Homo sapiens: one gene and its partner. The protein of the gene in region 1 purifies or fractionates together with the protein of each later gene. This does not show direct contact. Each region holds a gene or a part of one and is shown on either strand. Other genes may lie near its edges.

What was found.
Region 2: the proteins of IQGAP2 (region 1) and MAP3K3 purify together in Homo sapiens (tandem affinity purification; one large-scale study listed by IntAct). This does not show direct contact.

The regions. Positions count from the first base shown.
Region 1 is NC_000005.10:76,703,677-76,707,499, reverse strand, and holds part of IQGAP2 (ras GTPase-activating-like protein IQGAP2), read right to left. Parts: intron 301-3,823; coding exon 187-300; 3' UTR 1-186. UniProt on the Homo sapiens protein: Binds to activated CDC42 and RAC1 but does not seem to stimulate their GTPase activity. Associates with calmodulin.
Region 2 is NC_000017.11:63,632,251-63,636,073, reverse strand, and holds part of MAP3K3 (mitogen-activated protein kinase kinase kinase 3), read right to left. Parts: intron 3,394-3,823; coding exon 3,272-3,393; intron 1,366-3,271; coding exon of another isoform or gene 1,273-1,365; intron 1-1,272. UniProt on the Homo sapiens protein: Component of a protein kinase signal transduction cascade. Mediates activation of the NF-kappa-B, AP1 and DDIT3 transcriptional regulators.

The DNA of each region.
Region 1 (3,823 bases):
TCATTCTATTATAGTATCAAATTAGCAAAAAGGCACCTGGGTACATTCTTCAGAACAGTTTTGGTCGTTTTAAAAAAATCACACATTTATAAGCAGTGATTTCAATCATGTTTAAAAACAAAAATATTAAACAAATTCATTTCCTAATCCAGATGATACAGAATCCAAGAAATTTCTGTAGGCACTTCACTTTCCATAGAACTTCTTGTTCAGCAGGTATATGAGAAGGTTTACATTCACTTTAACCTTATCAAACATTTTCATTACAGCTACTCCTTCATATTGCATCTGAAGTAAATCCTGAAATTGTAAAAAGCATCATTAAATCTCAACTTTGACATTTTGTGCATTTAAAAAACATATTAGAAGAATTTGTTGACAAAAGTCAGATTCAATTGACCTAATCACCTGGGTGGGGTCTAACTATGTTGCCCAGGTTGGTCTCAAACTCCTGGCTTAAGCTATCTTCCCACCTCAGCCTCCCGAGTAGCCAGGACTACAGGCGCATGCCATGGCACCAGGCCATAGATGGGGGTTCTAAAACTTAAGTGTACATCAGAATCATCTGGTTAAAAACATAGGCTAGTTAAAATAAAGGCTGCCTGGGCTCCTCCCACAGGAATTTCTTGTTATGTAGCTCTCTGGTGGGGCCCATCAATTTGCATTTTAATAAATTCCCAAGTGATTGTGACTTAGATGAAAGAAAATAGCTTTTTGGAATTGATAAGGGCTGTATGAAAGTAAATGATGATCATTAAGTTAATGTCAGATATATAATTTCAATTTTTAATCGAAAATGTTAAAACACAAAGTTCTGGCTAGATGCATATTCTTTAGAAAGCAGTGTTTTCTGGCTGGGTGTGGTGGCTCATTCCTGTAATACCAGCAGTTTGAGAGGCTGAGGCAGGTGGATCACTTGAGGTCAGGAGAGTGAGACCAGCCTGGCCAACATGGCGAAACCCCATCTCTACTAAAAATACAAAAATTAGCTGGGCGTGGTGGTGCACACTTGTAATCCCAGCTACTCAGGAGGCTGAGGCAGGAAAATCACTTGAACAGAGTAGGCAGAGATTGCAGCGAGCCGAGATTGCACTGCTGTACTCCAGCCTCAGCGACAGAGAAAGACTCTGTCTCAAAAAACCCGAAAAACAAAAACAAAAACAAAAACAAAAACAAAAACACAGAAAGCAGTGTTTTTTTAAAGTGAAGTGAGCAAGACATTCACTGGGGAAGCAAAAAGAATATTAGAACTCCTATTTCTATTTATTTTTTCTCATTTTTTGGACTTTTTTGGTATATAATACAGCACGTTTTAGAGTACAATAGCAGAAGCATGTATACTTTACAAATAACTATGTATGGAGAGAAGTGCTCATACTATTTCCTGATGAAGTGACCAAAGTTTGGAGACCATTGTACAAAGCGGTGGTCCGCACTTCTTGAACTAGGCTACTTCTGTTTCTGTACTGAGAACAAGCCCTCATTCTTAAGTCGAACTGTCATTCTGTTTTTCACTGCCAGCATATAAACAAAGGAAATCAACTCTCTTTTTAAAATAAGTAACTGGATCACACCAGCCATATGCATGAAACTAAGCTGTAACATTTCATAGTAACATAGGTACAGGAAGCCTTTCCCAATGGAAGATATAATTCCTGAGCTGTCCTGGCCCAATATCTAAGTCTCATTTTCTTGTTTCTAGCAAGGTCAATTGTAGAAGTTGGAGTCATCTTTGAGAGAACTCTGACTCTTGGCAGCTTCCTCCTCCACTTCCTCAATTACCTCTCACTGCACTTAAGAAAACCCCTACATTATTCAGATATGCTTCTAGAACTAAAATTCTATAGGGAATTGAAGTCCTTTCATCAATAATACTTTTAGCTATTTAGAGTGTAGAGGAGATTCACTTTTCCTCTGGGAAATGCAACATCTGTTAAACAAAGTCTAGTGGAAAAGAATTAAACCAATAGAGTTAGATTGAAAAGGAATGGCATATGTAGGGGAAGTAGCTGGGTCCCCAAAGTAGGGAGCAGAGAAAACATGGCTGGACTCATGACTTGAAAAGCAGACTTTAGTTTTAGCTCTGCCATTTGCTATCTTAAGACCTTGCAACATGACATAACTTCTCTGAAGTTCTGTTTCCCTGTGTGTAAATTGGGGATAACACTGCCAATTTCACAAGGGTGCTACTGGGAATGAGATATGAGATTAAGGTATATGCAAACCCTTTGTAAGCTACTCTTGTCTTGCAGGATCAACTGGAATCCTATGAGACAGGCAGTGGACTAGAGTGATGAAGAACTTGGATCCCAGCTGCATTATCTTCCATAATTATCCCAGCTAATTATCTTCCATAATTAGCTGTCTGAACCTCAGTTCTTCATCTAGGAGAGGAAGAAGGCCCACCCTGCAGTCCCCGATAAATACCTGACATTATTTTTACAAGAAGAATATATATCACATAAGTCATATCCTCCTGTTACCTATATGGCCTATAATTATAGGATATAATTCTATCCTATGGTTTTCTTTAGGAACTGAAGGGAAAATGGGCTGAAGATAACCAAGAGACATAGAGCTGTAATGTTAGAAGGGGCTTTCTTTAGTCCTTTCAAACTTTGGTCCTGTTCCTGGTCCTTTACTCACAGTAAGGACCTGGCCATCACATTTCTCTTTGACAATTTACACATTCATGCAATTGACTGAAAGCTGCATATATAAATAGAAGTCTGCCTTTACATCTGACAGCTATCAAATGCAGGGCTGGCTCCGTGGGTATGCAATCTGTGCAGCCGCACAGGGTCCCATGCCCAGGGTTTTATTCTCTTCTGTCATCATCCTAAAATCCTTAATAATTTTAAAAACAGGGCACTGCATTTTTATTTTGCTCTGAGCCCTGCTAAGGATGTAGCCAGTTCTGATTATGCACTACTGATTTAAAAAACCCAGGACATACTGGTCACCTGCATATAGCTAAGGATTAACATTTCACAATCCATTATGTGTATAAATGAATGGTATGAACAGCTAATCTTACTGTATACAGAATCCTTAACAAAGGAACAAGTGAAGCTTGGTTTTTATACCAGTACTCAAAGGAAGTCTCATGGAATTATTGCTTTCTCTCTAAACACAATATAAGGTGTCTCCTGGTCACTTGTGACTCATTGGTCCAGTTGATATTGACTGGCCCTGGATAATTTCCTTCTTGGCAATCACATATGTCTTTTGCTATTTCTACAGAGGAATCACTAACCAAAGGGTATCACCACAAGCACCTTCTTTTCTCTTCCTGTATTTATCTGTTACACAAAATAACTGAAGACCCTAATTAGCTAAATTATTAAATGGATACATTTAGTGACATTTAAAGTAAGTTAGAAAACAATACTGTTTACTTAATTATACTTTCAATAATTACATAATAGCTTTCATCTTATCTCCGAATTCTAATTTACTCCATTATCTCAATGTCCTTATCAAACCCATTCAGCTCCCGTTTTTCTTTTAAACTTACAAGGGCTGCCAGAAAAGAAGGGCTCTGGCACACACTCCCATGATGGGGAAGTAATTCCAGTGCATGGAGCCCTGGGCTGCACAGACAGTGAGGCCAGAATTCACATCACTCTCAGGATCTTAGTGAGATGATTCATGTAAACATATGCAAAATACCTGGAAACCATTTTGTAAGTAGTTTGGGGCCCAGGTAAGATGTTATTTCCATTTAAAAAGTGTTACATCAAAAAAGAAAAATAAATTACTTCTTTAAATTGGTTTTGTGCTAAGGATTAAGAAGTTGGGGGCAGATGAACATTTGTTTGCA
Region 2 (3,823 bases), on another chromosome or scaffold:
CAAGCTTGAGCTCCATGAAGCTGTGCCAGTCTCGACTCTGCCTTGTAGCCAGCACTGCCATTCTCATAGTGAAAGGCTGTTTGCCTCTGCCAGCCCCATTCCACCCTTGAATAAACAACCTTTCCAGCTAGCCAAAATGCTTAGCTTCTTTCAACTGGGACTCTGTAATTTGAATCTGTAATCCAATTAGACATTTCTTAACCAAATTTGGCAACTCTTCACCATTTAAATTAGGTTTTGATCTTTCATTCCTCTCTCTTCCTAAGCATGGACTTTCTGGCAGAAGAACTGGTAATGAAGAAAACTGTTTCATTCTATCTCAGGCCTAGGCTAACAAAAACTACAATAATAATAATAAATGTGTAACTCTGTGAATTATAAAATCCGATGTTAAATGATTATTAATATCACCAGGCTCCTTTCATTATACTAGGCTATAAATACCTCTCCCCAACATCTTCCCCGCACTACCTCTTACCCTATCTTTCCTAGAAATGCATTTGCTGAGACTTTGTCTTTTTCTGCTTTCAGAATTTTGCTGAAGAATATCCCTCTTGGTCAGAAGCAAAACATCTGCTACACTTCCCAGGACAGGCCATTCTATAACCTTGACTTCATTAAGAGGAAAAGCTATCTTAGCATTTTATTTCCCCTTTTGCCCATATTAACATAAAACTTTGAGCTTCAATTTCTAAACAGCTGTTCTAGTTCCACATCTTCACATTCTTCCTAAAACAGAAATCTTAGGTAGGATTCCCATTATTAGCTTATCACAATGTACAGAAACTCATGACGTGTGTAAGGAATGAACATACCAATGAATATCTACACATCTCCAAGCATATACATAATTTCTTGCCCAATAAATCAACAGTCCCTTACATAGTGCATAAAGTCATGCTGTCCAATACAATAGCCACTAGCCACATGTGGCTGTCTAAATTAATTAAAATGATATAAAATTTAAAATTTAGTTCCTTAGTTGCTCAACAGCCACATGTAGCTAGTGGCTACAAAACCACATTGGACAGCAGAGATATAAAACATTTCTGTCATCACAGAAGGTTTATTGGACAGCACTGATAGAGGCTGTTTATGAATAATACTGTTGTGAGAAATGGTGACTAGAAGCACTGAACACAGGTCACGGGTAACCAATGCTTTTTACAAATCCACTAAAACAACTTGTCTGGGAAGTGAATTCTGCTGTTGCAGCATGAGTAGCAGATTTAAAAGTACATTTTGGCTTTAACAGGTAATCTGGATCCTTACCAAAAATTTCTTTTTCTCACTGGCCCCTGCACATGAGCTTGTTGTTACTGTGGGGCTGTTCAGAAGGGCTGAGCTGCTGCTGTTGTGTTTTTTCTTTAAAAACAAAAAAACTGAGGTTAATAATTTGTATCCTTCGTGCAACATAAGTTTGACAACATTGAAGTAAATCATGGATCCAAAGATCTAGTACCTCTTGTTAAGATTACTTCCTAACAGTCAATCCTTTTTAGGCTTCTGCCTTCATAACCACTGACTTCACTCTACCAGCGCAGCAGCAGGCACAGCAAAAGATCAAGACTTCCCTCATCATGGCTTTTAGGCTCTAAGCAGAAGGAGTCCTAAAAAGGAATCCTCCTTCAAGGAACCATCAGTGACCATTCCGCCCCTCCTTTTCCCAGCCTCGTCCTTTTGGGCCTTCCAATTCAAGAAAGCTTCCCCTTTTCACCCACTAACTGATATTCATGCTAATAGTCCAGTCTGGAGAAAGATCAGCTAACTGGAGCAATGTTAGCAAGCACACACTACATAGGAAGACAGGAAGGAAAGTGAGGTCATTAGGCTCAAGCAAGGGGGAGGGGACTCACTTCTGGTAAAATGCTCCTTCGAAAAGTGGCTTTGAATACAAATGAGTTATAGCAAGGGAGAACTCACACAGTCAGACTGAATAACATATGAAAATAGTGTAAGAATGGGCCCTTATCTGTTTATACCTCCAGTACTATAAGGTAACAACAACAAAAGCAGCTTTTTAAACTAATCCTTCTGTTTTAACATGAAACAAAAGGACTCCTCTTCCCTTGGGGTCCCTAGGATTCCTAAAGGCAGGAAATACTCTGGAAGGCTCTATCTAGCAGACCACAGACAGGAAAAGTTTTAGGGCCTTATACTATCTCTAGGAACCAATTCTGAAGAATTGGTAAACAAGGTGCAAATGAGAAGAAAGGAGGTTAGCTGATAACAAACAGAACCAAAAGGGAGAATGTCATACACAAATTTTCATCAAACATGCCCAATATAGCTAGCTGACACAGCACTGGATACCCACTAGGTAGGAAAGCTCCCCATCATTCACTCCTCTCTGCAGAACAAAGTACCCAGGAAACAGGTAAGTGGCACTACAGGTGAGAAGAAGATTGTCAATGACACACAAGTTTAAATGTTAAGGAAAATAGGCAATGTTTTCCTAAAGAAGCATACAACTCTCAATAAAACAGGCACTATCAATAAGGTTAATAAGGTAAAATAACTGTAAACAGTAATAACAAAATCACTCATTATTGCCTTCAGAATATACTAGGTGACATTTTAATTAATAAATTTACCTTCTTAATTATATTTTACATAAGCTAATACCAAATTAATTAGTTTTTCCTGACTATATACTGTAAGGTAGCTAAAAACCTTCTGACTTAGGGATCATGAATCTGAATTAAATATTTGCCAAATATCAGTAAAGGGGAAAAACGAATATGAATACTGTCCCCATAACAGATGAAATGCTTACACAAGGCTTTAAGACTCCAAATCATAGATCCATAACTGCATGGCATATATAACTTTTTTTTTTTTTTTGAGACAGAGTTTCACTCTGTCTTGCCCAGGCTGGAGTGCAGTGGTGCTATCTCGGCTCACTGCAGCCTTTGCCTTCCAGGTTCAAGCGATTCTCCTGTCTCAGCTTCCTGAGTAGCTGGGACTACAGGCATGGACCACCACACCTGGCTAATTTTGTGTTTTTTAGTAGGGACAGGGTTTCACCATGTTGGCCAGGCTGGTCTCAAACTACTGACTTCAGGTGATCCGCCTGCCTCGGCCTCCCAATATCACTTACCATTTAACCATACCTGGTTGGTATGTATTACTTCCCATTTAACAGACTGTGAAAGGAAGGGGTCAAAAGCATTCAACCCTGGTAATGTAGTCTCCTTGGCTTTTCGTATATTTCCCATTTGAAAACCCCTCCCCAACAAATCTCACTTAGCTCTGCCAGGGTCACACACACCTGCCTATTTGAGTGACCTGTGTCTTTGTTCTTCATGGTCTCATATCCAGGCATCCGGTGACGTCGGTTCATCTGGAGGGCCACCAGATCGTTCATGATTGAGTTCAATGCCTCCTGTTCGTCTGCAATGAAAGAGAGCACATGGACTAAGACACTTAAATACAGACCAGCAAAGCTCTTTCACAAACTGTATAACTAATACTCAGGGAGTTCTGCCCAGGTAAAATGACAGACCCTGTAACTATAATCAGATGCAGCCCAAAAGGTCAGACTATGGCAATTTGAATTTTAATGGATTCTTTTTTTTCTTCGAGACAAGGTCTTGCTCTGTCACTCAGGCTGGAGTGCAGTGGCGTGATCATAGCTCACTGCAGCCTCCAACTCTGGGGCTCAAGTGACCTTCCCACATCAGCCTCCTGAGTAGCTGGGAACACAGGCATGCACCACCATGCCTGGATGATTTTTTTATTTTTTGTAGAGACGGGGTCTCCCCATGTTGCCCAGGCTGGTCTCCAACTCCTGGACTCCAGTGATCCTCCTGCCTCGGCCTCC